7 linked regions of the Homo sapiens genome follow. The protein of the gene in region 1 purifies or fractionates together with the protein of each later gene. This does not show direct contact. Each region holds a gene or a part of one and is shown in the gene's direction. Other genes may lie near its edges. The genes, in order: CIAPIN1, RNF20, TTC5, PPP1R2, CNN1, HSPB8 and RAB5B.

What was found.
Region 2: the proteins of CIAPIN1 (region 1) and RNF20 fractionate together in Homo sapiens (co-fractionation; one large-scale study listed by BioGRID). This does not show direct contact.
Region 3: the proteins of CIAPIN1 (region 1) and TTC5 fractionate together in Homo sapiens (co-fractionation; one large-scale study listed by BioGRID). This does not show direct contact.
Region 4: the proteins of CIAPIN1 (region 1) and PPP1R2 fractionate together in Homo sapiens (co-fractionation; one large-scale study listed by BioGRID). This does not show direct contact.
Region 5: the proteins of CIAPIN1 (region 1) and CNN1 purify together in Homo sapiens (affinity purification with mass spectrometry; one large-scale study listed by BioGRID and IntAct). This does not show direct contact.
Region 6: the proteins of CIAPIN1 (region 1) and HSPB8 fractionate together in Homo sapiens (co-fractionation; one large-scale study listed by BioGRID). This does not show direct contact.
Region 7: the proteins of CIAPIN1 (region 1) and RAB5B fractionate together in Homo sapiens (co-fractionation; one large-scale study listed by BioGRID). This does not show direct contact.

What each region holds. Positions count from the first base shown.
Region 1 is NC_000016.10:57,427,366-57,431,003, reverse strand, and holds the end of CIAPIN1 (anamorsin), read left to right. Parts: intron 1-664; coding exon 665-746; intron 747-1,723; coding exon 1,724-1,834; 3' UTR 1,835-2,817; downstream 2,818-3,638. UniProt on the Homo sapiens protein: Component of the cytosolic iron-sulfur (Fe-S) protein assembly (CIA) machinery required for the maturation of extramitochondrial Fe-S proteins.
Region 2 is NC_000009.12:101,550,552-101,554,990, forward strand, and holds part of RNF20 (E3 ubiquitin-protein ligase BRE1A), read left to right. Parts: intron 1-54; coding exon 55-234; intron 235-1,132; coding exon 1,133-1,268; intron 1,269-1,589; coding exon 1,590-1,711; intron 1,712-1,831; coding exon 1,832-2,202; intron 2,203-3,436; coding exon 3,437-3,554; intron 3,555-4,142; coding exon 4,143-4,292; intron 4,293-4,439. UniProt on the Homo sapiens protein: Component of the RNF20/40 E3 ubiquitin-protein ligase complex that mediates monoubiquitination of 'Lys-120' of histone H2B (H2BK120ub1).
Region 3 is NC_000014.9:20,291,864-20,296,302, reverse strand, and holds part of TTC5 (tetratricopeptide repeat protein 5), read left to right. Parts: intron 1-448; coding exon 449-595; intron 596-776; coding exon 777-991; intron 992-4,175; coding exon 4,176-4,320; intron 4,321-4,439. UniProt on the Homo sapiens protein: Cofactor involved in the regulation of various cellular mechanisms such as actin regulation, autophagy, chromatin regulation and DNA repair.
Region 4 is NC_000003.12:195,516,422-195,520,059, reverse strand, and holds part of PPP1R2 (protein phosphatase inhibitor 2), read left to right. Parts: intron 1-874; coding exon 875-1,042; intron 1,043-3,117; coding exon 3,118-3,164; 3' UTR 3,165-3,638. UniProt on the Homo sapiens protein: Inhibitor of protein-phosphatase 1.
Region 5 is NC_000019.10:11,545,103-11,549,541, forward strand, and holds part of CNN1 (calponin-1), read left to right. Parts: intron 1-1,572; coding exon 1,573-1,639; intron 1,640-1,729; coding exon 1,730-1,867; intron 1,868-2,694; coding exon 2,695-2,805; intron 2,806-4,220; coding exon 4,221-4,367; intron 4,368-4,439. UniProt on the Homo sapiens protein: Thin filament-associated protein that is implicated in the regulation and modulation of smooth muscle contraction. It is capable of binding to actin, calmodulin and tropomyosin. The interaction of calponin with actin inhibits the actomyosin Mg-ATPase activity.
Region 6 is NC_000012.12:119,191,439-119,195,535, forward strand, and holds the end of HSPB8 (heat shock protein beta-8), read left to right. Parts: intron 1-2,260; coding exon 2,261-2,420; 3' UTR 2,421-3,308; downstream 3,309-4,097. UniProt on the Homo sapiens protein: Involved in the chaperone-assisted selective autophagy (CASA), a crucial process for protein quality control, particularly in mechanical strained cells and tissues such as muscle. Displays temperature-dependent chaperone activity.
Region 7 is NC_000012.12:55,983,710-55,988,148, forward strand, and holds part of RAB5B (ras-related protein Rab-5B), read left to right. Parts: intron 1-3,159; coding exon of another isoform or gene 3,160-3,251; coding exon 3,252-3,414; intron 3,415-4,439. UniProt on the Homo sapiens protein: The small GTPases Rab are key regulators of intracellular membrane trafficking, from the formation of transport vesicles to their fusion with membranes.

The sequences.
Region 1 (3,638 bases):
AAAATTAGCCAGGCATGGTGGTATGTACCTGTGGTCCCAGCTACTTGGGAGGCAAAGGCAGGAGGATCACTTGAGCCTGGGAGGTCGAGGCTGCAGTGAGCCGTAATTGTGCCATGTATCTAATTTCACTCTCCCTCAAAACCCTACCAGTAAGCCACTATTGTGCCACTGCACTCCAGCATGGGCATCAGAGCGAGACCTTGGTGTCTTCACATTTGTTTTTATAAATGGATGGGAAGGATTGTAGAAAGTTAATCAGTGATGTTCATCATCAGCGTTAATCATCAGTGTTTTTTAAATGTAAAAGCTGCCAGCATTTACAAATCAGGAAATTTCAAGTGAAAACACAGATTTTTTTCCCTTCTGTTCTTGAATTTGGAAAATATGGCAATCTGGGTCCACTTTCCCCAGCATGATAACCAGCTGAAGCTTGAGTAGTGGCTGCCCTCTGTAGACAGAGCACACACGGTACTTCCCTCATCCTCCTCCCACTTCTGTCTCCCTCAGCAGCCTCTCATATTGCTGCTGTCTGCCTGGCCTATAGGCTTCTGAGTTATGACACTGGTGTGAAGAGAAAAGGCTTAAAGCACATTTTGGCACTGTTAGGATTTGGGATTTCTGGGTGGTGACAATTCTCGTTCATTAGTTACTGATTTTCCCGCAGCACCTGTGGCCTTGCCGAAGAACTGGAAAAAGAGAAGTCAAGGGAACAGATGAGCTCCCAACCCAAGTCAGCTTGTGGAAACGTAAATATCAGGATCATTCCTCAGCATTCACAAACCCCCAGGGGGATTAGACCTTCTTCTAAACTAAACACAGACAAGCTCCACCTCAAATATTTTAGTAACAGACGAATGCGTGAGCACACGAACGTAGGTAGTAATGGGGAGAGAGGCTGTCTCCTGAGAGTGAGAGTGGGTTAGCGTGCTTGTGCTGGTCAGGGAGGGTCTTGTTGCTTTTTATTTTTGGCCCATTTCTTTGTACTTCAGAGTGGGACCTGATGGTTAGACAGTTAGCTAAAGTTGGTTGTGTTTTGAACTGCATAGAATATAGAACTATGGCCGGGCGCAGTGGCTCACGTGTGTAATTCCAGCTATGCCAGAGGCTGAGGCGGGAGAATCACTTGAACCTGGGAGGTGGAGTGAGCTGAGATCGCACCACTGCACTCCAGCCTGGGTGACAGAGGGAGACTCCATCTCAAAAAAAAAAAAAGGCCGGGTGCGGTGGCTCACGCCTGTAATCCCAGCACTTTGGGAGGCCAAGGAGGGCGGATCACGAGGTCAGGAGATCGAGACCATCCTGGCTAACATGGTGAAACCCCGTCTCTACTAAAAATACAAAAAAATTTGCCGGGCATGGTAGCGGGCGCCTGTAGTCCCAGCTACTTGGGAGGCTGAGGCAGGAGAATGGCGGGAACCCAGGAGGCGAAGCTTGCAGTGAGCTGAGATCGCGCCACTGCACTCCAGCCTGGGTGACAGAGGGAGACTCCATCTCAAAAACAAAAAAAAAAGAACTATGGCCTCCTAGGGAACTTTTCATGACTATAGTTTTTCACGAAACCAGAAATCTTGAAAACTCTTAGTATTTTGGTCTCAATTGGACCTGCAAACATAGCCATTTCCTTCAGGCCACTGTGGCCACATTATGAAATTAGGCATTTCTTTCTTCTGGCTGGTATGCCTGGGATAAGCTGACCCTTGGCTTCCCCATTCTCTCTCTCCAGTGCTACCTGGGCGATGCCTTCCGCTGTGCCAGCTGCCCCTACCTTGGGATGCCAGCCTTCAAACCTGGGGAAAAGGTGCTTCTGAGTGATAGCAATCTTCATGATGCCTAGGAGGTTCCTGACATGGGACCCATCTGCTCCTCCAGCCAACTCCTGTCCCTCACATCCCACCATGGTGGCTCCTCCCACCTCCTCTGGATTTGTTCACTCTGAGATCTGTTTGCAGAGTGGGTGCTTAGCAGACAGAGTGAAGCTGGCTGGGGGGCACAGTGGTGTGTAGTGCTGCTGTGTATCAAAAGACCAAGGTATTATGGGACCTGGTTTCAGAATGGGATGGGTTTCTTCACCTCATGTTAAGAGAAGGGAGTGTGTCCTGAAGAAGCCCTTCTTCTGATGTTAAAATGCTGACCAGAACGCTCTTGAGCCCAGGCATCGTTGAGCATTAACACTCTGTGACAGAGCTGCAGACCCCTGCCTTGAGTCTCATCTCAGCAATGCTGCCACCCTCTTGTCTTTCAGAGTTGTTAGTTTACTCCATTCTTTGTGACACGAGTCAAGTGGCTCACAACCTCCTCAGGGCACCAGAGGACTCACTCACTGGTTGCTGTGATGATATCCAGTGTCCCTCTGCCCCCTTCCATCCCCAACCACATTTGACTGTAGCATTGCATCTGTGTCCTGTTGTCATTTATGTTAACCTTCAGGTATTAAACTTGCTGCATATCTTGACATATCTTGAGATTCTGCATGTCTTGTAAAGAGAGGGGATGTGCATTTGTGTGTGATGTTGGATAGTCATCCACGCTCAGTTTGGACCATTGGAGGAACTTAGTGTCACGCACAAATGGGGCTATTCCTACGCTTAGAATAGGGCTTGTCTGCCCACTTTAGAAGAGTCCAGGTTGGTGAGCATTTAGAGGGAAGCAGGGCAGAACTCTGAACGACAATACGTCTCTCTGAGCAGAGACCCCTTTGTTCTTGTTATCCACCCATATGGACTTGGAATCAATCTTGCCAAATATTTGGAGAGATTGTGTGGATTTAAGAGACCTGGATTTTTATATTTTACCAGTAAATAAAAGTTTTCATTGATATCTGTCCTTGAAACTTGATTTGATTCTCCAAGTTTGCTTTGCTTATCCTAGTCCCTGCTGGTGGATTTTAGTTGTTTGTTTGGCTAATTGAAGTTTGGCTCCAAAGCCCCTTTTATACACAGGTCTAAGATGACCCCTAGTGACTCATGCCCTTGTGTAATAACCCCCTTGAGTTTCAGCAGGACCTGTGAATGTGATGGGATAATCCCTACTGTGATTAGGTTACCTTCTGTGGCAAAAGTGAAGGGATTTTGCAGATGTAATTAAAGTCCCTAATGGACTTGAAGTTAATTAAAAGGGAGATTATCCTGAGTAGGCTTGACCCAATCAGTTGATCCTTTAAAAGAACTAGAGAAGAATTTCTCTTGCTAGCCATGAAGAAGTAAGTGCTGTATTAGTCTGTTTTCATACTACTATAAAGAACTGCCCGAGACTGGGTAATTTTTAAAGGGAAGAGGTTTAATTGACTCACAGTTCTGCATGGCTGGGGAGGCCTCAGGCAACTTACAATCATGGCGGAAGGCGAAGGGGAAGCAAGACACCTCCTTCACAAGGTGGCAGGGAGGAGACATGCTGAGCAAAGGAGGAAGAGCCCCTTATAAAACCATCAGATCTTGTGAGAACTCACTATCATCAGAACAGCATGGGGGAAACCGCCCTCATGATTCAGTTACCTCCACCCCTCTCGCTTGACACGTGGGGATTATGGGGATTACAATTCAAGATGAGATTTGGGTGGGGACACGAAGCCTAACCATATCAGTTGCCAAGTAGGGAGAGGGCCATTGGCAAGGAACTGTGAGTGCAGGCTCCTCACATGC
Region 2 (4,439 bases), on another chromosome or scaffold:
GCGTCTGGGGCAATGCTAGATTCTGCTTCTGACTTTGCTTTGGGCCCTCCTAAGGTGGAATTGCGGAGTGCAGTGGAGCAAGTCGTTAAGGAAACTCCAGAATATCGCTGCATGCAGTCACAGTTCTCCGTCTTGTATAATGAGAGCCTACAGTTGAAAGCACACTTGGATGAGGCTCGGACCCTGCTTCATGGCACCAGAGGAACCCACCAGCACCAGGTTGAGCTTATTGAGGTAATAGCCTTGCCTTGTCTTTTGTATGTAAGCTTTCTTGCCTCCTAAATTTTACAATTTTACTCCCTCATGTGCAATTAATCTCTCATTCATTCAGCTGTCATTCATAGAGTGGCAGTAGGTCTTTACTCTGGTAGGTACTGGGCATATAAAGATGAGATGACAAAATTCCTGCCCTCACAGATCTTGTAGTCTGCAGTAATGGGAGAATAGTATCCATTAGAATGCAATGTGGTACAATGGCAGCATAGCCAAAAGATGTGATACATGAGAAAAGAGTGTCTGATTTGACTGTGGAAGTTTCCTGATTCCACTTAAAAAAGTAAGGTATAAATATTAAGGATAAATTATTGGTAGTTGAAAGTAGGAGAAGAAGAATTCCCGGCATGAGAACAGCACATATAAAGGTATGAGAGAGCATGAGAAATAGTTTAATATGGCTAGAGCTTACGTGTATGTGAGAAAATAGTGGGTAGAAGCTGCAAAATTACTTACATTTCTTAAACAAAAAGCATATAATGGCACCAGTAGATGATTTTTTTAAAAGATAGAAACTTTTATTCATATGTTCATTTCTGTATCTTCCATAGTTTTTAAGGTAATGGTTATAATAGTTGGTCTTTTAATATATGCCTGACAAATGAATTGAATACTATTTTACATATGTTTATATACTGTTTTATAGTTTAGTTCTCCAACTAAATTCTAATATTCTCAGAATTGGTGGCCATTTTCTTTATTTTTCAGTATCCTGTCAGTTTCCAAATTAGTCTTTTGTAGATATCTGGTTTCATTACGTATAGATTGAACTGGAAATTTTCAGAGTAATCCATAGAATATGATGATATTTCTACATTTTAATAAGAATTTTTTTATTGGTTCCTTTATCTGTGTGTAGCGAGATGAGGTTAGTCTTCATAAGAAGCTGAGGACTGAAGTAATTCAGCTAGAAGATACATTGGCCCAGGTCCGCAAGGAGTATGAAATGCTGAGGATAGAATTTGAGCAGACCCTTGCTGCCAATGAACAAGCAGGTATAATGATTCTCACTCCATGCTGTAGTTTGCTCTTAATACCTTCCTTGAAAGATACAACACAGACCCCAGGGTTTGTTAATGCTGACTTCAACTCAGAAGTCATAAGTACCTTAAATCCTATAATTCATTTTGGTTCACAGCCTGGATGTTTGTTTTTTAACTCAAGTTGACCAGTTTTGTTTTCATCTTCTGAGAAGGAATCTTTTATTTGGTAATTCTCCCTATTTCTCAGTGCCTCCTGATGTGTTCTGTTCTTTCTCTCCTTGTGCCTTTGCCCTTACCACGGTTCCTCATAACATTGTTGTTCCTGTATTTAAGGCCCTATAAACAGGGAGATGCGCCACCTCATCAGTAGCCTCCAGAATCACAATCACCAGCTGAAAGGGGAGGTCCTGAGATATAAGCGGAAATTGAGAGAAGCCCAGTCTGACCTGAACAAGGTAACCAGAGGGAATAGAATAAATATCATTTGCTATTAATGTCGTAAAGCTGCTTTTGAATGAGGTCGGCAATGTGGTTATCATAAGAGATGTGCATCTTTCTTTTCTTTATTCTCCCAGACACGCCTGCGTAGTGGTAGTGCCCTCCTGCAGTCCCAGTCTAGTACTGAGGACCCGAAGGATGAGCCTGCGGAGCTAAAACCAGATTCTGAGGACTTATCCTCCCAGTCCTCAGCTTCAAAGGCATCTCAGGAGGATGCCAATGAAATCAAGTCTAAACGGGATGAAGAAGAACGAGAACGAGAAAGGAGGGAGAAGGAGAGGGAACGAGAAAGAGAACGGGAGAAGGAGAAGGAGAGAGAACGAGAGAAGCAGAAGCTAAAAGAGTCAGAAAAAGAGAGAGATTCTGCTAAGGATAAAGAGAAAGGCAAACATGATGATGGACGGAAAAAGGAAGCAGAAATTATCAAACAATTGAAGATTGAACTCAAGTAAGAACCACATTTAGAGTAACAGTTTCGACTGAAAAGCTAAGATTAAGACATCATGCATGAAATGTTTGGTTGATGGCATGGCTTGTCTGATCGTTTTAATGTTTTAGATTGTACAATTAATTTGGTTTCAAGTCGTGTTCAAGTGCACAGCCAAAATGGCTTGCATGGCTATTTAGTACTTTGGTTCAGTGATCGAGTATCAGCAAACCGATGATGGTAGCCTTATTTTTATGAATCCAAATTAAGGAAAAGGATGTCATGATTGAGGTAATACTTCTGAGAATTATTGGGAATTAACTACTGCTCTTCACTGGATTTGAGCAGATTGCTGGCGTTAATTGTAATTTAAATGATATTAAGTGGAGTATTTATATATCACTGTAACTTGAACAATATCTGATCTATTTGCCTGAGAGTTAACTGGTTTGTGAATATGCCATATCTTTCTTAGGAGATTTACTCCTATACACATTGACACACTAAGATAGACCTTTAACTTGTTGAATTTTTCTGTGTCATAACCTTATGCATTGGCCCTTCTCCTGTATAACCAATAACTTCTCTGGCAGAACGGCTTACTTCTTGCTCCTTACTTTCTATGGTTGATCCTTTGTTGATGTTTGGACTTGAGAGACCACTGTGCTCAAAATGCTTGAACTCTTTTGGTATATAAAAGTATAGTTAAGAGGTTTAGTAATTTAATAAGAGGTGAAGTTTTAGTCTTTGGCTGATGGTTAATCACTCAGCTGTCAAATCTAGGATTAACAGTATATCTCAGACTTTCAAATTTTTCCCTTTTATTTCTCCCTCTTGAACTCTTTAAGGCAATTTTTTTTTTTTCTGGTGTGGTATCAGAATCATCTGAGTGACTTGTTTAAATCACTTGTTTAAATTTTTGAACTCCATCCCCAGACCTACTGAATCTCAGTTACCCAGGGTTGGGGGCCACAGAAATTTGCCTATATAACAAGTACACAAATGTCTGTTTTATAACTTTGTTAGAGGACTTTGAAGGGAGAAATGATTCATTTTTATACAGCTTACTTTTCTGTACTTTCTAAGCATATCCAAAAGTCTTTTGATAGTCTGTGCAAAATTTTATCTTTTAGGTGTGATATGAAATGTAAAATGAAACTGTTTTAAAATATTCTGCTCAATCAAAATTCCCTTGCTCTGATGACCTTTATTTTCTTATTACATTGTTCCCCTCCCTCTACTACGCCTGTCATAGGAAGGCACAGGAGAGCCAAAAGGAGATGAAACTATTGCTGGATATGTACCGTTCTGCCCCAAAGGAACAGAGAGACAAAGTTCAGCTGATGGCAGCTGAGAAGAAGTCTAAGGCAGAGGTATTCTAGTCTGCTATTACCTGTCCTTCTGGTTAAAATCTTCATTTGTGGGATTTTCCTTTATACTTGCCAACGATATAATTTCTTTCTTTATCTTTAAAATAAGTGTTTAAGTGCAACATTTTCTGCCTTTTCAAAGACCATCTGAAGTAGAGATTTTAAAACTCTCCATAGGATGGTAAAATATATCTGAATTACTGGGGTTATGAGTAGGCTTTCCAAAGTATGTATTCCTTGTTTTTCCTATGTAATTCATTGCTACAGGGATAATCTTTTTCATTACTTTTGGGAGGAATGTCTTATGCTCTTAAAATTTTGAGGCCTAAAAAAAAGGATGGGAACCACTATTCTAAAGAAAGTTACCTGTGCACTTCTCAAAAGTGTTGCTTATAGAAGCATGTCATAGTAGAATGGAGTGATGTTAAAACAGATGGTGTTATGTAATGTTTTAGTATATTATGTACCTTGTTCTATAATTCTGTAAAGACTCTTTTGGTATTATGAACCTTCTATCTTTGCACAGTATTAATTGATTTTTGAAAATGTGTTATAACTTTTTATTTTTGTGCAATTCCTTTCCTCTTATAGTTGGAAGATCTAAGGCAAAGACTCAAGGATCTGGAAGATAAAGAGAAGAAAGAGAACAAGAAAATGGCTGATGAGGATGCCTTGAGGAAGATCCGGGCAGTGGAGGAGCAGATAGAATACCTACAGAAGAAGCTAGCCATGGCCAAGCAGGTGGACTCACTTTCTTTATTTAATTGACTTTTTGAGTAAATGTTACTTGACAATAAGTTATTGCCAGTGAAATTTGCTTTTTTATTTTGGTCTTTTTTTGATTGTTAATGTGTATTTTTCCTTTTTGTGTGTGTGTTTTAATTCTTA
Region 3 (4,439 bases), on another chromosome or scaffold:
GACAAGATTGGGTACAGACTGCGAGAGGAAAGCCATGCTATTTCTATAAATAGCTAGCTCGGTTTGGCTTCAGTATCTGGTGTAGTCACTGGAGGGAAAGGAGAAGGGGCTGTGGAGGTGGAAGAATAGGTAGAGAATGGGGGGATCTTTTAGAAGACTTCTGAAATGTTAAGTAAATATAAAGGTCAAGTGAGCCAATATATACAACTTAACTATTTTAGAGTTTGGAAATTAGCTTCTTTGAAATGATTCCATCTTTGGGGTTGTGATCATCTTGGCTAGGAAGAAGGATGTAAGGTGTTACCAGCTCTTCAGGCTGTTTGTTGCAGCACAGGAAAATAACCAGGAAGGAAAACAGTTTATTTCTCTAGATTCCTAGCCCATGGTGCCATTCCCTCGGGATAGTTTGTCTGGATATACTTATAATTGGGATACACTTCTTGTACAGTTGCATAAATATGAAGAGAGTTATGGGGAGGCCCTGGAGGGCTTCTCTCGGGCTGCAGCCCTGGACCCTGCCTGGCCAGAGCCCCGGCAACGAGAGCAACAACTTCTGGAATTCCTGGATAGATTAACCAGCCTCCTTGAGAGTAAGGTAAAAATGTCTGAAGGGCTGAATTCCACTTTTTTTTTTTTTATTTTGTCGTGGGTCAATAAAATAAGAATAAATAGGTTTACGAGGTAGAGACCCTATAGAAGTGGGTGGGAGGGAAGGATTAGAATCTCAAGGAAGGCGACTAGTTTCCAGCTTCTTACCTATTTCCCCTTCTTTGCAGGGAAAGGTGAAGACCAAAAAGCTGCAGAGCATGCTGGGAAGCTTGCGCCCAGCCCATCTAGGCCCTTGCAGTGATGGGCACTATCAGTCAGCCTCTGGGCAGAAAGTGACCCTGGAGCTCAAGCCACTGAGTACGCTTCAGCCTGGGGTGAACAGCGGTGCCGTCATCCTGGGAAAGGTGGTATTTAGCCTCACCACAGAGGAGAAAGTCCCCTTGTGAGTTTCTCTTGGATTTCCCCCATTTTACCCTTTTGAACTAATTGCTCTCACTTCCTGTTCTTTCCCTGGCAGTTGAGGAGATTGTCAGTGGTCACAGATTTGTGACTTCTGATTTCCTTCTGTGACTATCCCGTGGGCAGATATTGTCTGGGTGATGTTTAACCATCTTTTGATCAGAGGCTTTTGTAGATTCTGTCACTGCCCATTTTGTATCCCTGAGTTTGGTGCTATGTGGATTCCTATATCCATAGTTGAAATTTGGCAGGACATATTTTTTTATAAGACAGAAACCTCAAAATTCTTCTGTCCCTTTGCATTTTCATGATCATAGAAGTTGAAGGAGGACAAATTTCTTAGTCCTGTTTGTACTTAGGTATACTTAGTTCTGAAAAGTGAGCTTTGAGTTATAATTTAAAGTCTGGTTGGGAGATTGTCTTAGATGTCATTCAACAAATATTTATTGAGTGTGTAATATATGTGTCATAGGGAGTGAGAAAAAAGAAATGTAAAGGACCCAGGTGCAGGTGCTTCTAGCAGCAGAGGAAATGAATTAAGAATATTTGTTTAGAAAATTTTTGGATCTTGAAAAGTTACGGTTTAGTGAATGCCACCACTCCTTGGTCCTTCACTCACTTCCTAATCCCTGGTTGACCGGTTTCCCCTTTCTCTTTTCTACTGAAATTGTTATTTTCCTAGGATCACCATTGTCTTTCTAGGCACTGGATCCAGCAACTTCTATTGCATGGTTCCAAAACATTCTGACTTATCTCTCACTATTGCTTTTCACATCCTTTCTGTTCATCTAAACAGAAATATTCACAATTCCCATTATATGCCCAAGCTTTCTCCATGGCATTTTCTAGGGGTTTGTATATTTGACGAGTTGAAGGGCAAAAAGATAGTTGAGAACAGTTTAGTTTACTAGAGCAAATCCTAGAGCTGAGAAGAATTAGAAAGGGATATAGACAAAGGTAGGTTTTGGAGGACCTTGAGAACAAATAGATATTTTGCCACTCCTTGGTTTCTCTTTTTCTGCCTAACTTTTAAATCTTAGGTTCCCAGGACTCTATTTTTGTTTTTTTCCTTTTTTCTCTTTATATCAGGATGGCCTATAGTTGCCAACTTTGATCACTTGTCAGTGGTTGCCTGACATACTGTGTAGAAGGATTCTGAGGCTTTGACTGGATTCATCAGGAGAGTGCTTTGCTTGATTGCAATATTTCCTGTGAATTCAGGCATGTCACGTGATGGCATGAGTGTGATTCTTCTCCATCCTGTCTATAGATCATCTTGCCCTGTGATGTCATATAAACCCAAGGCTTTGGCAGCCTCCTATATGCTTACAGATATATCTCCAGCCCAAGCTTCATTTCCAAGTGTTGGATTCCTATAACCATCTGCTTCTGGGTTCCAATAAGAAATCTCTAACTCAGTATTTCAGTATTACTCACCTAAATCTTTCTCTGTAAACCTGCTTCTCCTCCCTGGATTCCTTGTGAATGAATGGTATCACCTCTCAGTCACTTGATTAAGACTTTTGGAAGAATAGGCTTCTCCATTCTCCAAAAAGATTTGCCTTTTTTGTCCTATAGACTTGACTTCTCTGTGTTTACCACCTTAATTCACCCCCTTATCACTTCTCCAGATAGGTCTCCCTGATTCTCTGGTTTCCTCCAGTGTTCCACAGTGCTGCCAGAGAAATGTTTCTTAGATGGAAATCTGACCATTGCTACTTCTTATTTAAGATCCCTTACTGGTACTATATGTAGCTTTTGGGATAAAGTGTGAACTACTTAGGTTAGCATACAAAGTCCTTCATGATTTGCTCCCTGCTTCTCTTTCTATTATCTTTTGTCTCTTTCCCACCAGTGCCTTTTGTTTCAACCATGGAACAATTTTGTTGGTTTTAGAACAGCTGTTTTCATGCCTCTGTGTCTTACATACAGTTACTCTGCCTGGATAATCTCTAGCTTCTTCTTGACATAGCTAACATCCTCTTCTGCCCCCAACATTTTGTATAAAAATTTTCAAACATATAGCTAAGTTGAAAGAGTTTTACATTGAACATTTGTGTTCTCATCCACTTATATTCTACCATTAATATTTTATTTTACTTAGCTTATTACATATCAGTCTGTTTATCCTGCTATCAGAGTAAATTGCAGAGATCAATATACTTTACATACTTTAGCATGCAGTCATTAACTGAGTTCAGTATTTGTTTCAATTTTTTCTTTTTATGTAAAATTTACATACAATGAAATGTACAATTTTAAGCGTACATTTCATAGCTTTTAACAAATGGAAAATATCTGTATAACCCAAATAGAGATCATTACCACCATTCTGGGAAGTTCCCTGATGTTGCCTCCAAGTCAAAATCTCTGTTCCTATCCCCTCAGAGGTTTTTAACATTTTTACCGAGGATTAATTTTTCTCTTTTAACCCAGCTGGTTTTTTACCCTTTAAGATTCACTTTGAGCGTCACCTCTTCCAGGAAATCTTCCCTGCTTTCCAATTTTGATTTAGATATTTGTCCTCTGGGCTCCCACAGCCCAATCTGTGGCTTCATTGAATTCAGCACAAGGGAAAAGCTATTCTAGCACCCATCACACTGTGCTGTAAGTGATGACTTCATTGTCTGACTCCTGCTAGACTATAGGTCATTCATAGCTGGATTGGTATCTTATTGCTAAACACAATGCTTGGCACATATGTAATATTCAGTGAAAGTTTGTGGAGTTAAACTACACAGACAGTGATGGTTAGAGGCTTTGGTTAAGAGTATGATAGTTAAATTGATAGACCAGGAATAATGTTACAACTGTAACATGTTGGTCTAGTTCATCATTAATATTTGTTGAATGGCTTCAGTGTGCTTTGTCCTAAGTTCTTAGCAAAGTGACTGATGAGTTTCAGAAAAATGAAGACTCAGATATATAAAGTGGAAGATGGTACCTCTCATAGGTTTTCTGAGTAACTGAGAAAAAGCATTTGTTTATTTTGTTAGTATTTTATTTTTAAAGTTTAATTAAGTTAAATTTTATATTTTATTTTAATTACCTGTCACTGACTTTAAGTCCAGTATTTTGCTAGTATTTTTAAACCACTGTTTCTGCTCTTCTTTCCTACCCACATACCTTTTTGTTTTCCTCTCTCCTAATCTGTCTTTACTTGGTAGTACATTTGGCCTGGTAGATTCAGATGGACCTTGCTATGCAGTGATGGTGTACAATATAGTGCAGAGCTGGGGAGTGCTCATTGGAGACTCTGTAGCCATTCCTGAGCCCAACCTGCGGCTTCACCGAATTCAGCACAAAGGAAAGGTGAGCAATGGCTAGGATTCTCTTACAACTCGTAGGCTCTAAAAGTAGAACCAAGCTTATCTTTTTATAAAAGATATAGAAATAATTATATGTAAGTATGTGTGTAGGCTATGTGTATA
Region 4 (3,638 bases), on another chromosome or scaffold:
CAGCCTGGGCAATTAGAGTGAAACTCCATCTTGAAAAAAAGAAAAAATAAAACAACGGTGAATAATTTTAATGCTGTTCATTGGTAAAATAGCTGGCAATTTTATATTGGCCCCCCCTTTTCTGTTGTTTTTTTTTTTTTTTAATTTTCTGATCTAAGGAAGTTAAAAACCTTAAAATTATGTATTCATAAATAGTTGCTCTAGTGTGATCAGTTGTGTTGCTGCCAGCTTTATGTTTCTATGGTGAAGACTAAAATGAAATATTTTGGAGTCACTTCACCATTACTTTATAATACGTTTTTCTTAAAATTACTCTGAAAATGAGGTTACGTTTTTAGCCAACAATGTCTTAAATCATGGCAGTTTCTTAACAGGTAAGAATTGTTTTAAAGGATTTTTTCTTAATTATAAAAATAGAAAATAATAAAATATTAAAACTACTTCATTGTTCCTTGACTCAGAATTAAACACTGTTAATTGCTGAGTCTTATTTTTCTCTCTGTGTGTGTATGTGACAGGCATTGTACATAGTAAATATAGTATATGGTGTTGTAACTCGCTCTTTTGTCACCATTTAACTCTTTCTGGATAATTTTCCCATAGCTTTAATCTTTCTTCACAAATATAATTTCTAATGGCTGGATATATTCTTGTTCTTCCATTGAGATGAATGCCAGATAGTAAATATTTTAAATTTTGCAGGGCCCAGTGGTCTCTATTACGAACTACTCAACTCTGCCATTGAACACAAAAGCAGCCTTAAGCATGACAAAAACAAATGAGCATCACTGTTTCAATAAAATTTTATTTATAAAACAGGCATGGGCCAATCCTTGAGCTCAAACTTCCTAAGTTTACATTTTGCATCTTATAGAAAAAAAGCGACAATTTGAAATGAAAAGGAAGCTTCACTACAATGAAGGACTCAATATCAAACTAGCCAGACAATTAATTTCAAAAGACCTACATGATGATGATGAAGATGAAGAAATGTTAGAGACTGCAGATGGAGAAAGCATGAATACGGAAGAATCAAATCAAGGTTAGATGTTTGGAAAATGTCACTGAGACTTTTGTAATGGTCTATGCCTAAGATAATGTACTTTATTTTGCTTTAAACTTGTGAAAAAACAGAAAATTTTGCTGAGATTCGCTTTATTATACCAAATGTTTCTAAAGTTTTAACCCGCATGGCCAATTTCAGAATAATAAAGTTTTTATACCTAGAGTTGATTTGATTTTAGACCATATGTTTTATTATATGGCTTTCTTATGGTTTACTTGCCTTTAGGCAAGGATGTTTGTCTTCATATTAAGCTATATTTTGTTTTGAATATTTTAGGTCATGTTGTATTTGTCATAACGATCTAAAATTTAAAATTTTTAAATGAAACTTTTTTTTTTTTTTTGAGACAGAGTCTCGCTCTGTCACCCAGGCTGGAGTGCAGTGGCGTGATCTCGGCTCACTGCAAGCTCCGCCTCCTGGGTTCCCGCCATTCTCCTGCCTCAGCCTCCCGAGTAGCTGGGATTACAGGCGCCTGCCACCACGCCTGGCTGATTTTTTGTATTTTTAGTAGAGATGGGGTTTCACCATGTTAGCCAGGATGGTCCCAATCTCCTGACCTTGTGATCCGCCCGCCTCGGCCTCCCAAAGTGCTGGGATTACAGGCATGAGCCACCGCGCCCAGCCTGAAACATGTTTTTAGTATGGAAGATTTGGTTTTACATCCCGTTAGATACAAAGTATGTCATATCTTTCCAATACGGATTCTTTTGACTGTTGGATTGACAAGTTATTTAACTGTTTTTGTTTTTATTTTTTTTTTAAGTCTTAGACACCCAGCCCCTGCAGCCTAGCAACTCCTGATCTGTCATAGGAAATAGGTTTTATTTATTTTTTATGAACTGTTACTCTGGTATTTAATGAAGTGAATCTTCTGCATCACTAATGGAGATTTTTTGTGCCCACCACCTACTCCTTGTACTTACAAACTTCATACTTTTCAGTGGAGGCGTAACTGATGTTATTTGTGGTGCCCAGAATGGTTAAGTCTTAGGAAATTAAATAATTATTGTATTACCATTTTGGTAAGCATAGTATTAAATATGAATAATTCTATGATACAGCCTGATGAGTTGCTGTCTCATAGTGTCAGGATTACAGTACTTTTTGTTATTCCGTAATATGCTTCAACCTTTTAGTCTATTTCATATAGCCTTTCATTTCCATTATATATCCCATAGTCTGTTTAACTTATATTTAACTTGAGCAAACTTCATCTTACATAGTAGCTGTGGCATGTTTTTATTATCCATTTTTATTTTTATTTTATTTTTTGTTATAGAGGCAGCGTTTTTTGTTTGTTTGTTTTAACGCCATTTCTTTTGAAAAATAACTATGGCATTTTGTCCGTCTCTGCTTATAAGATATTACATTTCACATATTTAGTACATAAATATATTTTTTGTTTAAGTTTAATGGAGGATTAAAATTTTGTATTAGGTCAGTGCCTGATTTTTCTTCACTGGAGATGAAGTACACCTTGCAAAGGAGTATATCCTGCTTAGCATTATAAAACCCACAAGAATAGGATAAGACTTAGGGAAATAAGTACCTTATTTACCCCCTACCCTTTTTGGGCCCTTAACATTTTACCAGCTTTTCAGATCTCTAAGTTCTATAGAACCCATTAGTTTTGGGACAGTGCCAGTCTCCTCCCTTCCCCCTTTCCTCCCCCATTCACACAATTCATTGGAGAAAATGACATGTTTGGACTCTTAGGTGATATTTTATAGCTTTCAGGTAATAAATATGTATCTTTTTATAGCTCTGGATATTGGAGTTGTCGTAAACTCTTACCTTTCCACCTGTGACTTACAGAAATGTTCAATCTGAAACCTGTTTGTTTTATCAGCAAGTAGACACTTCTGTTCTTTAGACTATTTAGGGGAGTGTATAGATTCTTCAATTTCAGTCTAAATCAGCCTACATGAAATATACCTTATTTGTTTTTAAAATTTTTATATTTGCTTGTCATGCATGCTAATAGAAGGGAACTTTAGCCAGGGTTGACAACATATAACAAATTATGTTGACTTTTTCTTTTATCTTTGCAGGATCTACTCCAAGTGACCAACAGCAAAACAAATTACGAAGTTCATAGACGAGATTTGTTCAACACTGCAATTGTTTGTTAGATGTAAACCCTGTGACTATAGTACGTTGCTTCTTGTTCTTCACAATTCATGACTTAAGTACCAAAATGCATACCAGTTATTATATATTGCCAAGAATTAAATGATAAACTTAGAGACTGATTAGACTGAAAATGCCTAATCGATATATATATTCTTGTGCCTAGTACTTTACCACAAATACAGTGTAATATCATCAGTCCAAAACTGCATTACTTTTGTAAAAACACTGGTTAATTTGTATAAGATATTATAGAGCTTTTTATGCTTTAGAAGTTAAACAATATCTTTGGGGGGGAACTAATTTATTTTCATCACTTGAAATGTGGTAGCTCTTACAAAGTTTATTGATTTGATTTTTTTAAAAATCAAAAGCCAATTGAACAACAGGATATATAGACTGATAAATATTTAGGCTGAATAGTATTTTAACACTTGTCTTC
Region 5 (4,439 bases), on another chromosome or scaffold:
AGGCAGGAGAATTGCTTGAACCCAGGAGACAGAGGTTGCAGTGAGCCGAGATCCCGCCACTGCCTTCCAGCCTGAGTGACAGAGCAAGACTCCATCTCGGAAAAAAAAAAAAAAATTCTGGCTGCTGGATGAAGAAGGGTGGGTCTGTAGGGGATGAAGTGGAAGTTGGGAGCTCATTACAAGAGGCCAGGAAACAGACTCTGGTGGCTGAGACCCAGGTGGAGGTGGCGGGGAGCAGTGGGTGGTTTTCTGGACTCATTAAAAGGCAGAGCCAAAGAACTTTGGAGGGACTGGACATGAGGCTGAGAGAAGGAGAAAGGGGGAGTTGGGGGCAAGTCCAAGGGCTCTGGCTGAGCACCTAGAAGGGGGCACTGCTAGGCAGGGAAGGTGGAGGGAGGGGGGAGTCTGGAGGGGGAAGCTGCATGTCAGGAGTCTGGAGCAGGGTGAGTTTGATTTGAGACACCCAGGCACCCATGGAGAGAGCTGAATGAGATGGTAAGAAACCCAAGCTGCAGGGAGATGAGGGAGTTGCTGGCATATGGAGGCACTTAAAGTCAAGACACTGAATGAGGCCAGGTGCTGTCACTCATGCCTGTAATCCCAGCGCTTTGGGAGGCTGAGGCAGGAGGATCGCTTGAGCCCAGGAGTTCAAGACCAGCTTGGGCAATACAAATACAGTGAAACCCCCTCTCTACCAAAAAAAAAAAAAAAAAAAAAGCCAGGCATGGTGGTGCGCACCTGTGATCCCAGCTACTCGGAAGGCTGAGGTGGGAGGATCGCTGGAGCCTGGGAAGTTGAGGCTGCAGTGAGCTGTGATTGCACCACTGCTCTCCAGCCTGGGCGACAAAGCCACACCCTGCATCAAAAAGAAAAAAAAAAGAAAAGAAAAGAAAAAAGAGGCGAGATCATTAAAGGAGTGAGTCAGAGAAGAGGCCCTTGTGGGCTTCCTGCTGTCTACAAGAGAAAAGGATGCTGAGACACGCCTGCCAGTGAGGCTTCGGAGATCCCAGAGACTCGGACACACCTTGGATAAGCAGGCTTTCTGACTGGGACCTGAGTCTAGCTCCTTGGCATCAGTGTCCCATTTGTGTGTGTGCTTGGGTGGTTTGGAGGGGCTGCAGCTGAGAGCTGACTGCAGGGAGAAGTGACGCTAGGGTATGGCATGGCCCCTTGTGGTCATCCCGTCACCCTCCTCCTGCTGGGCTGGGCTGGAGAGCGGGAGTGGGGGACACCTTTCTTTCTTTTTTTTTTTTTTTTGAGACGGAGTCTCGCTCTGTCCCCAAGCTGGAATGCAGTGCTGCAATCTCAGCTCACTGCAACCTCCGCCTCCTGGGTTCAAGTGATTGCCTCAGCCTCCTGAGTAGCTGGGAGTACAGGCATGTGCCACCACGCCTGGCTAATTTTTGTATTTTTAGTAGAGATGGGGTTTCACCATGTTGGCCAGGATAGTCTCGCTCTCCTGACCTCGTGATCCACCCGCCTTGGCCTCCCAAAGTGCTGGGATTACAGGCGTGAGCCACCGTGCCCAACCCTGGGGGGACACCTTTCTTACCCCTTCCCCACTCTTCTCAGATTCATCAATAAGCTGCAGCCAGGCTCCGTGAAGAAGATCAATGAGTCAACCCAAAATTGGCACCAGGTGAGCCCAGACACAATCTCTTCCATCCTTGCCCGCAAGCCCCTCAGACCTCCCCTCCCCACCCAGTGACCACCACCTGCCCCCCTCTAGCTGGAGAACATCGGCAACTTCATCAAGGCCATCACCAAGTATGGGGTGAAGCCCCACGACATTTTTGAGGCCAACGACCTGTTTGAGAACACCAACCATACACAGGTGCAGTCCACCCTCCTGGCTTTGGCCAGCATGGTGAGTGTGGTTGCAGGCTGGGCAGGGGGTGGTGGGCAGCCTGGGCTGGGATGCAGGTGTGGCCACTTGTGCTCCTGAGCCCAGTGAAGGTGGCGGAGCGGGGGGCAGGGATCGGGGAGCAGGTGCTGTCAACAGCGTCCAAGGGGGCCGGGCGCGGTCGCTCACACCTGTAATCCCAGCACTTTGGGAGGCCAAGGTGAGCGGATTGCTTGAGGCCGGGAGTTTGAGACCAGTCTGGCCAACATGGTGAAATCCCGTCTCTACTAAAAATACAAAAATTAGCTGGACGTGGTGACGCATGCCTGTAATCCCAGCTACTCAGGAGGCTGAGGCAGGAGAATCGCTTGAACCCGGGAGGCGGAGTCTGCAGTGAGCCGAGATCGTGCCACTGCCCAGCCTGGGTGACAGAGCCAAGACTCCGTCTCAAAAAAAAAAAAACAAAAAACAAAAAACAGTGTTGGCCGGGCACGGTGGCTCACGCCTGTAATCCCAGCACTTTGGGAGGCCGAGACAGGTGGATCACAAGGTCAGGAGATTGAGACCATCCTGGCTAACATGGTGAAACCCTGTCTCTACTAAAACTACAAAACAAAATTAGCCGGGCATGGTGGCAGGCGCTTGTAGTCCCAGCTACTAGGGAGACTGATGCAGGAGAATGGTGTGAAGCCGGGAGGCGGAGCTTGCAGTGAGCTGAGATCACGCCACTGCACTCCAGCCTGGGCAACAGAGCGAGACTCTGTGTCAACAACAACAAAAAAACAGTGTCCAAGGGGACTGTGCAGCCTGGAGGCCCCCTTGTCAGTCCCTGCTTTCCCTGCCCCACCTAGGCGAAGACGAAAGGAAACAAGGTGAACGTGGGAGTGAAGTACGCAGAGAAGCAGGAGCGGAAATTCGAGCCGGGGAAGCTAAGAGAAGGGCGGAACATCATTGGGCTGCAGGTACCGCCCTGTCCTCACTGCGCAGAGGTCATAGAGGCCAGGAGGGCACCCTGATGTCTGAAGGCTTTTGGGGACAGGATATTTGGCATTAACTATACTATAGGCCGGGTACTGTGCTTATGCTCATCTTCCATTCACAAACTCACTCACTCTGCCAACACCCCAGCAGACAGGTGCTTGTTATCAACATACCCTTTCCGCAGATGAGAAAACTGAGACCCGGAGAAGCTGGCTCGCTTTTGCACAGATCTTCCAGCTGATGCGTGGCAGGCTGGAACTTCAATGCTAGAAGTCAGTCATGTGATAGGCCCACTCTGGGCCTCAGTTTCCAGTCTCGAAAGGATGCCTCAGGCGGGGTGCAGTGGCTCACACCTGTAATTCCAGCACTTGGGGAGGCTGAGGCAGGAGGATTGCTTGAGGTCAGGTGTTTCAGACCAGCCTGGGCAAAATAGAACCCCCCTCCACCGCCATCTCTACAACAAATTTAAGAGTTTAGCCAAATGCAGTGGTGTCTGCCTGTGGTCCCAGCTACTTAGGAGGCTGAAGTGGGAGAATCACTTGAGCCCAGGAGTTCAAGGTTACAATGATTGCATCACTGGACTCCAGCCTGGGCGACAGAGTGAGACCCTGTCTCTAAAAATGAAAATGGGCTGGGTATGGTGGCTCATGCCAGTAATCCTAGCACTTCGGGAGGCCGAGGCAGGCGGATCACTTAAAGTCAAGAGTTCAAGGCCAGCCTGGCCAACGTGGTGAAACCCTGTCACTACCAAAAATACAAAAACTAGCCGGTGTGGTGGGGCACACCTGTAGTCCCAGCTACTCAGGAGGCTGAGGCAGGAGAATTGCTTGAACTCAGGAGGCAGAGGTTGCAGTGGGCCAAGATTGTGCCGCTGCACTCCAACCTGGGCGACAGAGTGAGATGCTATCTCAAATAAAATAAAATAAAACAAAAAAATAGAATAGAACAAAATAAAATATAAAAATAAACTAAAAAATGGGCCAGGCACAGTGGCTCACCCCTGTAATCCCAGCACTTTGGGAGGGTGAGGTGGGTGGATCACCTGAGGTCAGGAGTTCGAGACCAGCGTGGCCAACATGGTGAAACCCCATTTCTACTAAAAATACAAAAAATTATCCGGGCATGGTGATGCCCACCTGTGATCCCAGCTACTCCGGAGGCTGAGGCAGGAGAATTGCTTGAATGTGCAAGATGGAGATTTCAGTGAGCTGAGATCATGTCACTGCACTCCAGCCTGGGCAACAGAGCAAGACTCCGTCTCAAAAAAAAATAAATAAAATAAAATAAAAATTGAAAAAAATGATAAAGCGGCGCCTCATCCTCTCCCATCAGCTATGCCTCATGGCCCATGATGAGGTCTGTAATTATTGGTGTGATTCTCCTTCTGGCTTCCTAGATGGGCACCAACAAGTTTGCCAGCCAGCAGGGCATGACGGCCTATGGCACCCGGCGCCACCTCTACGACCCCAAGCTGGGCACAGACCAGCCTCTGGACCAGGCGACCATCAGCCTGCAGATGGGCACCAACAAAGGAGCCAGCCAGGTGAGTGGGGGCCCCCGGGACACGCCGTCAAGGCCCAGGACCCTGGCCACCCCACGGCCTGACCACACCACC
Region 6 (4,097 bases), on another chromosome or scaffold:
TTGACTTGGCAGCTTTCTAGTTCCCTCTTTTTCTTCCAAATGGGCTTCCCAGAAGCAGCCTTGTTCATCTCCATGGTTCCAATCTGGCAAGGAATCTCCTGGGTAGATACGGCTCATGTGGCTACAGGTTGTTGTACCCACAAAAAAAGAAAGAAAGAAAGAAAAAAAAAAAACTCCCCAGCCCCTCCAGAAGGAGTCCTGCCTATGATCAGGAATGGGCTTACCTCATGCCTTGGTTCTTTCATCAAGACCCTCGTATTTACAATAGGCAGAGCCAGCAGGGATCAGTGGAAAGATTTTGATTGAACTGCCGGTCCTTCCTGCCATAGTCCTTCTTTCAAATGTCTGGTGCTGGGGGAGGCAGGAGAGCATCATGGTCAGATACTCTGAGTTTGGAGACCAGGATTCCAATTCCATTTCCTATCTGCCATTTGCCAGCTGAGCAACCTTGGGCAAAGCAGTTCACTTCTCTGAGTCTCAATTTCCTCATCTGTAAGATGGGGATAGCAATGGAATCTGCCTGGTGGGATTATTGTTAACACCAAAATGATATGATTCAGCTAAAGTACCTGGCACATAGAAAGTACTCAGAAGGTCATGGATTTCATGGTTAAAAAAAATAATGGCACCCCAATGAGATCACTAATATGTCCTCACAGTTTTAATAGTTTGTTGAAGAAACCAAATTCTCAATAGTCTCATTCACCCAAAGCAATCCAAAAATCATAAAAATACCTTATTAGAAGTTGGACCAGATTTAGGTTTAGAAATTCCATCTTCGATGCTTTCTCACTTGTTGAGCTTGTCATTTGATTTCCCCCAAGTCTCTGTTTAGTGATCTGTAGAATGGGCATATTAATTCTTACCTCTTAATCATCCTCTTACAATACTCCAACCAAGTATTGTCTATAACTGAGTTTTAAGAACAAGATAATTGGCTGGGCTCGGTGGCTCACGCCTGTTATCTCAGCACTTTGGGAGGCTGAGGTGGGTGGATCACAAGGTCAGGAGTTCGAGACCAGCCTGGCCAACATGGTGAAACCCCATCTCTACTAAAAATACAAAAATTAGCCAGGCATGGTGGTGGGTGTCTGTAATCCACACTACTCAGGAGGCTGAGGCAGGAGAATTGCTTGAACCTTGGGAGGCGGAACTTGCAGTGAACCAAGATCGCGCCACTGAACTCCAGCCTAGGTGACAGAGTGAGACTCTGTCCCAAAAAAATAAAAGGAAGAACAAGATAATAATGATCTGCTAAGTGATTGTATTAGTCTGTTTTCACACTGCTGATAAAGACATACCTGAGACTACATAATTGATATATATATGAAAAAAAGAGTTTTAATGGACTCACAGTTCCACATGGCTGGGGAGGCCTCACAATCATGGCAAAAGGTGAAAGGCACGTCTTACATGGCAGCAGACAAGAGAGAAAATGAGAACCAAGCAAAAAATCTTATAAAACCGTCAGATCTCGTGAGACTTATTCCCTACCATGAGAACAGTATGGAGGAAACTGCCCCCTACCCATGATTCAATTATCTCCCATCAGGCCTCTCCCACAACGTATGGGAATTATGGGAGCTACAATTCAATATGAGATTTAGGTGGACACAGCCAAACCACATCAGAGATACTTAGGGTATGAACAAAATCAAGGCTTATTTTGAATACCATCGAGTATGTTGCCATCTGAAATCTACATGTGGCCAGCTTGGCCCCTTTTATCCACCAAGGTACCTAGTGCTTGCATCACCATTAATGCATTTTGTAGTGAAGCACTCTCCAGCAAGCACATGTCAGATGAAAATGTGTTGCCTGTTATGATAACACCTTACTTGCGCTCTATAAAGGGATGGTAGTGGTGCCATTTCTGCTAGTAATTGTGGTCAGTAGTGGGTATTAAGGTGATGACTTCAACCTGGGACCAAATATGTGGGCCACAGCTCTCTTTTAAGTTAAGAACTACTGTTCAAACAGCATTTTACCATTTGCAAAGCATACTCAGACTCTGAAGTTCAAATACTCTACAAGTTCAGTATTATTATCCTCATTTTGCAGATGAGAAAACAAGCTCAGAGCAACTGAATAATCTTCCCAAGACCACACAGCTAGAAAGGGGTAGAGCCAGGATTCAAACCCAACATTGTATGTCCCCAAAGCCTAAGCTCTTATCAAAAATATTTCCTCTCAAGTGAATAAAAGAATGTTTAAGCAATATTAACAACAATAAATGAATAAAATCGTGTGTTTCTCCTAGGCTTCCTGCAGAGGTGGATCCTGTGACAGTATTTGCCTCACTTTCCCCAGAGGGTCTGCTGATCATCGAAGCTCCCCAGGTCCCTCCTTACTCAACATTTGGAGAGAGCAGTTTCAACAACGAGCTTCCCCAGGACAGCCAGGAAGTCACCTGTACCTGAGATGCCAGTACTGGCCCATCCTTGTTTTGTCCCCAACCCTAGGGCTTCTCTGATTCCAGGATACATTACTTTAGCTGAACTCAGATTTAGTGCAAGTAAAATGTTAGAGGGTGCGGGGGTGAGGACTGACCACAGATTCCCTGGATAGTGTAGTGGTAGATTTCTCCACAGGATAGCGCAATTGGCAAATCATGCTTGGTTGTGTTAGGCCAAAATACTAGTTTTGCTTTCTTTACCTTTTCTATCTTGATGAAAATGTTGCACATTCTATAGTTGCAAAACACATAAAAGGGGACTTAACATTTCACGTTGTATCTTACTTGCAGTGAATGCAAGGGTTACTTTTCTCTGGGGACCTCCCCCATCACCCAGGTTCCTACTCTGGGCTCCCGATTCCCATGGCTCCCAAACCATGCCGCATGGTTTGGTTAATGAAACCCAGTAGCTAACCCCACTGTGCTTCCACATGCCTGGCCTAAAATGGGTGATATACAGGTCTTATATCCCCATATGGAATTTATCCATCAACCACATAAAAACAAACAGTGCCTTCTGCCCTCTGCCCAGATGTGTCCAGCACGTTCTCAAAGTTTCCACATTAGCACTCCCTAAGGACGCTGGGAGCCTGTCAGTTTATGATCTGACCTAGGTCCCCCCTTTCTTCTGTCCCCTGTGTTTAAGTCGGGATTTTTACAGAGGGAGCTGTCTCCAGACAGCTCCATCAGGAACCAAGCAAAGGCCAGATAGCCTGACAGATAGGCTAGTGGTATTGTGTATATGGGCGGGACGTGTGTGTCATTATTATTTGAGTTATGCTGTTGTTTAGGGGTAAATAACAGTAAATAATTAATAATAATAATAATAATAATAAAGGAGCTGACGTTCTTAGCCTTGTGTGGTTCTTTTAATGAGGAACTAAATGTAATACCACCTAGATATACAACATCAGTTAGCAATGCTGTGGCTTAAAGTAATGTTGCGCGGAGCCGCGATGCCTAAAGGAGGGAGAAAGGGAGGCCACAAAGGCTGGGCGAGGCAGTATAGGAGCCCTGAGGAGATCGACGTACAGCTGCAGGCTGAGAAGCAGAAGGCCAGGGAAGAAGAGGAGCAAAAAGAAGGTGGAGATGGGGCTGCAGGTGACCCCAAAAAGGAGAAGAAATCTCTAGACTCAGATGAGAGTGAGGATGAAGAAGATGACTACCAGCAAAACCGCAAAGGCGTTGAAGGGCTCTTCAACATCGAGAACCCCAACCAGGTGGCACAGACAACCAAAAAGGTCACACAACTGTATCTGGATGGGCCAAAGGAGCTTTCGAGGAGAGAACGAGAAGAGATTGAGAAGCAGAAGGCAAAAGAGCGTTACATGAAAATGCACTTGGCCGGGAAGACAGAGCAAGCCAAGGCTGACCTGGCCCGCTGGCCATCATCCGGAAACAGCGGGAGGAGGCTGCCCGGAAGAAGGAAGAGGAAAGGAAAGCAAAAGATGATGCCACATTGTCAGGAAAACGAATGCAGTCGCTCTCCCTGTATAAGTAACCGCGACCCATGGGAGGAGATGCCGGGGACCTGGGCCGCGCTGCCAGGACCTCTGCTGTGTCTCGCCCACCCTGTGCCCTGGCGCCGCCGCAACAGCCCCTCGTGGCCAGGAGCCCCCCATGGCCTGGGGCCTCCTCTTCA
Region 7 (4,439 bases), on another chromosome or scaffold:
AGTGCAGTGGTGTAATCAGCTCACTACAACCTTCAACTCCTGGGCTCCAGTGATTCTCCCACCACAGCCTCTGGAGTAGCTGGGATTACAGGCACATACCACCATGCCCAGCTAATTTTTTTAAATGTTTTCTAGAGACTCAGTCTCGCTATGTTGCCTAGGCTGGTCTCAAACTCCTCACCTCAAGCAAGGCTTCCCCTTTTATCTCCCAAACCCCTGGGATTACAGGCATGGGCCGCTCTGCCAGGCCTGTTTTTTCTCTTTTTCTTTCTCTGTACCACTTTCATATTGTGGCTTCTTCCCTGCCCCCGATCTCCCCCCTACCCACCCCAGGTGGAGTCTTGCTCTGTTACCCAGGCTGGAGTGTGGTGGCACGATCTCGGCTCACTGCAACCTCCGCCTCCCGGGTTTAAGCAGTTCTGCCTCAGCCTCCCGAGTAGGATTACAAATGCCGGCCACCAACCACACCCGGCTAATTTTTTTTTTTTTTTTTTAGACTGAGTCTCGCTGTTGCTCTGTCGCCAGGCTGGAGTACAGTGGTGCAATCTCAGCTCACTGCAACCTCCACCTCACAAGTTCAAGCAGTTCACCTGCCTCAACCTCCCAAGTAGCTGGGACTACAGGCACGCGCCACCACGCCCAGCTAATTTTTGTATTTTTAGTAGAGACGGGGTTTCACCATGTTTGCCAGGCTTGTCTCAAACTCCTGACCTCCTGATCTGCCTGCCTTTGCCTCCCAAAGTGCTGGGATTACAGGCGTGAGCCACTGTGCCCGCCTTTTATTTTTTGAGACGGAGTCTCGCTCTGTCACCCAGGCTGGAGCACAGTGGCGCATCAGCTCAGTGCACCCTCTACCTTCTGGGTTTAAGCGATTCTCCTGCCTCAGCCTCTGGAGTAGCTGGGATTACAGGTATGCACCACCACACCCAGCTAATTTTTTTTGTATTTTTAGTGGAGACGGGGTTTCACCATGTTGGCCAGGCAGGGCTCGAACTTCTGACCTCAGGTGATCCACCTCAGCCTCCCAAAGTGCTGGGATTATAGGTATGAGCTACTGCACCCAGGCTGTGGCTGCTTTTTAGGAATATATTGATAACAACTAATATTGAGATATATTTTAATAGCTATTAGCACTATGCTAAACACATCTTTCACTTATTATTTGTAGCTATGAGGATGGTATTTTTTCCATTTTACAAAGGTAGAAGGTAAGGCTTAGAGAGGTAGAGAAATTCTCTTTATATCATATTAGTAATGATTAGTAGCTTAATATTTATTTAGCACTTAGTATCTATCAAATACTTAAAATACTTTAGTTATTTATATGCATTATCTCATTTAATCCTTACAACACCCTTATGAAGTAGGTGCTTATAAGGCTATTATCTCATTTTACAGATGAGGAAATGAATGCACACATATATTTAGTGACTTGCTCAAGGTTCATAGCTAGTAAGTAGAGCTGAAAAACAAACGTGGAGAATTGGACTCCAGAGCCTTTATTCCTCTGAATTGCCTCCTGTATGATTTTCTGTCTTTACGATCTAGTAAGTGGGGTTACTGAAAATTTTTAACCCCAGTTTAACTCCAGTCCCACTAATTGTGGTGACAAAATAATGATGTTTCCCCACATATGCCATAGAGTATGATGTCTGTGAAGTCACTAGGATCTGCTTTGGAAAAGCGAAAGAGTAATTTGAACAAGCAAAGTACAACTCTCAAGCAATGCTTAGGTTTGGGAGAGAGGTTTTTGCATGCTCTGCCTATGCTAACTTCCCTTTGAATTTCATAGTTCCTTTCCGCTCAGAGTCAGGATGATGAAATGTATTCAGATTTAGACGATTAGAATCTCAAAGTCCCAACTCTTCTCTCTGTTCCCTGCCCCACCAGCAGCTTTCTTAGCCCTCTTAGAAGATAGAGGAGCTGATTCAGTGTATTCTTTCATCAAATACTGATTGCTTGCAGACTTAACGCCCTATACCATCCTCTGGAGACTTCTGCATGTCTTTAGAAGGTATACCTTTCTCTGCCTCTAATTTGGAGGGCTACAGCTGTTAGGCCCCTTTGGTGTGGAGGGTAATCTAATCCCTAGGCACCAGCAAGACAGCTGCAAGTTGAGAGTAGGTCAAGCTTACTGATTCTTGATAGACTTTCAGATTTGGAAAGATGGCAGAAACAAAGTGAAAAAAGAGTTGTTAATGAAACAAAGAGTTGATAATGAATGTGATCTGTTGGTTGTATTTCTCTCTTTACCTTCAACCAAAAATGAGAAAGGATAGATTTTGTGGCAATGGGACCCTGGTTAGATCTTTAGAAATGTCTTATCAGGGAGACCGGTCATATATAAAGGATACAGCAGCAACTACCCTTCTGCCCTTAGGAGTGGTGACTCTTATCCCACACCCCTAGAGTGAATCTCTCATTTTGACAAAGAGCTAAGGAAAAATGAAAAGAAGGCCAGGCACGGTGGCTCATGCCTGTAATATCAGCACTTTGGAAGGCCAAGGCGGGCAGATCACCTGAGGTCAGGACTTCTTAGACTAGTCTGACCAACATGGAGAAACTCCGTCTCTACTAAAAATACAAAATTAGCCAGGCGTGGTGGTGCATGCCTGTAATCCCAGCTACTCGGGAGACTGAGGTGGGAGAATTGCTTGAACCCGGGAGGCAGAGGTTGTGGTGAGCCAAGATTGTGCCATTGCACTCCAGCCTGGGCAACAAGAGTGACGTCTCAAAAAAAAAGAAGAAAAGGAAAAGAAGAGCACAGCACCAGGATGCCAAGGAGATACTGGGGATCTAGGGTACCGGTGGGTGGATCTGGATATTCTTCAGGCCAGCTAAAGGTTGATCACTTTGTGTGACTCAAACAAAAAACTTTGAAGACCTGGTGGGGAATTACTGGGGAATTAAAAACTCTCAGTTTTCAGTCTCTCTATTTCGGCTCCCTTGGCAGTTAGAGATTATGTGGTAGGGCAGACTCCAGAAGCAGTTCTTATTTTGCTCTTCCCAACTCTTACCACTGAGGATCAGCTGCCTGGGACCTTCTCAGAGCTAAGTCCTCATAGAAGCAAGGAGATGAAGAGGTTCTATCCTTCTCTGAAAAGCGATTGCAGCTTCAATGGACGTATGTTTAATTTTATTCACTTTTTTTTCTTGCAGGAGTGTTGAAGCCTGGAAATCCCCTCCCCTTCCCCCTCCCCCCTTTACAGTATCCCCCTCCCTCCACCCTTTCCCATTCTGATAATCTGGCCATGACTAGCAGAAGCACAGCTAGGCCCAATGGGCAACCCCAGGCCAGCAAAATTTGCCAGTTCAAATTGGTCCTGCTGGGAGAATCTGCAGTGGGAAAGTCAAGCCTGGTATTACGTTTTGTCAAAGGGCAGTTCCATGAGTACCAGGAGAGCACCATTGGAGGTGAGTGCCTTGGGGTAATAGGAGATTGAATGTTTGGTAAGGGTTTTTTTTTTTTTAGATGGAGTCTTGCTCTGTTACCCAGGCTGGAGTGCAGTGGCGCAATCTTGGCTTACTGCAACCTCTGTCTCCCAGGTTCGAGCGATTCTCATGCCTCAGCCTCCCGAGTAACTGGGATTACAGGTGCACACCGTGGCACCTGTCTAATTTTTGTATTTTTAGTGGAGAGGGGGTTTCACCATCATGTTGGCCAGGTTGGTCTCAAACTCCTGACCTCAGGTGATCTGCCTGCCTCGGCCTCCCAAAGTGCTGGGATTACAGGCGTGAGTCACCACGCCGGGCCGGTAAGGCTTTTGAAAAGAGATATAAGACCTGATTATGGAGCTGGCCCTCTTAGTCCCATTCTTTTCCCCAGAAATGGAAACCCTTTATAAAAACAGAGGCCGGTCCCAGTGGCCCACCACTTTGGGAGGCCAAGATGGGCGGATCACCTGAGGTCAGGAGTTCGAGACCAGCCTGCCCAACATGGCGAAATCCTGTCTCTACTAAAAATACAAAAAATTAGCCAGGCGTGGTGGCAGGCGCCTGTAATCCCAGCTACTCGGGAGGCTAAGGCAGGAGAATCACTTGAACCCAGGGGGCAGAGGTTGTAGTGAGCCGAGATTGCGCCACTGCACTCCACCCTGGGCGACAAGAGCAAAACTCCATCTCCAAAAAAAAAAAAAAATCAAAATCTGGTAAAATAGGCTGGGCATGGTGGGTCACACCTGTAATCCCAGCATTTGGGAGGCCAAGGCAGGCGGATCACTTGAGGCCAGGAGTTCAAGACCAGCCTGGCCAACAAGGTGAAATCCCCGTCTCTACTAAAAATACAAAAAATTAGCTGGGCGTGGTGGCACATGCCTATAATTCCAGCTACTCAGGAGGCTGAGGTAGGAGAACTACTTGAACCCAGGAGATGGAGGTTGCAGTGAGCCAAGATTGCGCCATTGCACTCCAGCCTGGGTGACTAGAGTGAAAATCCGTCT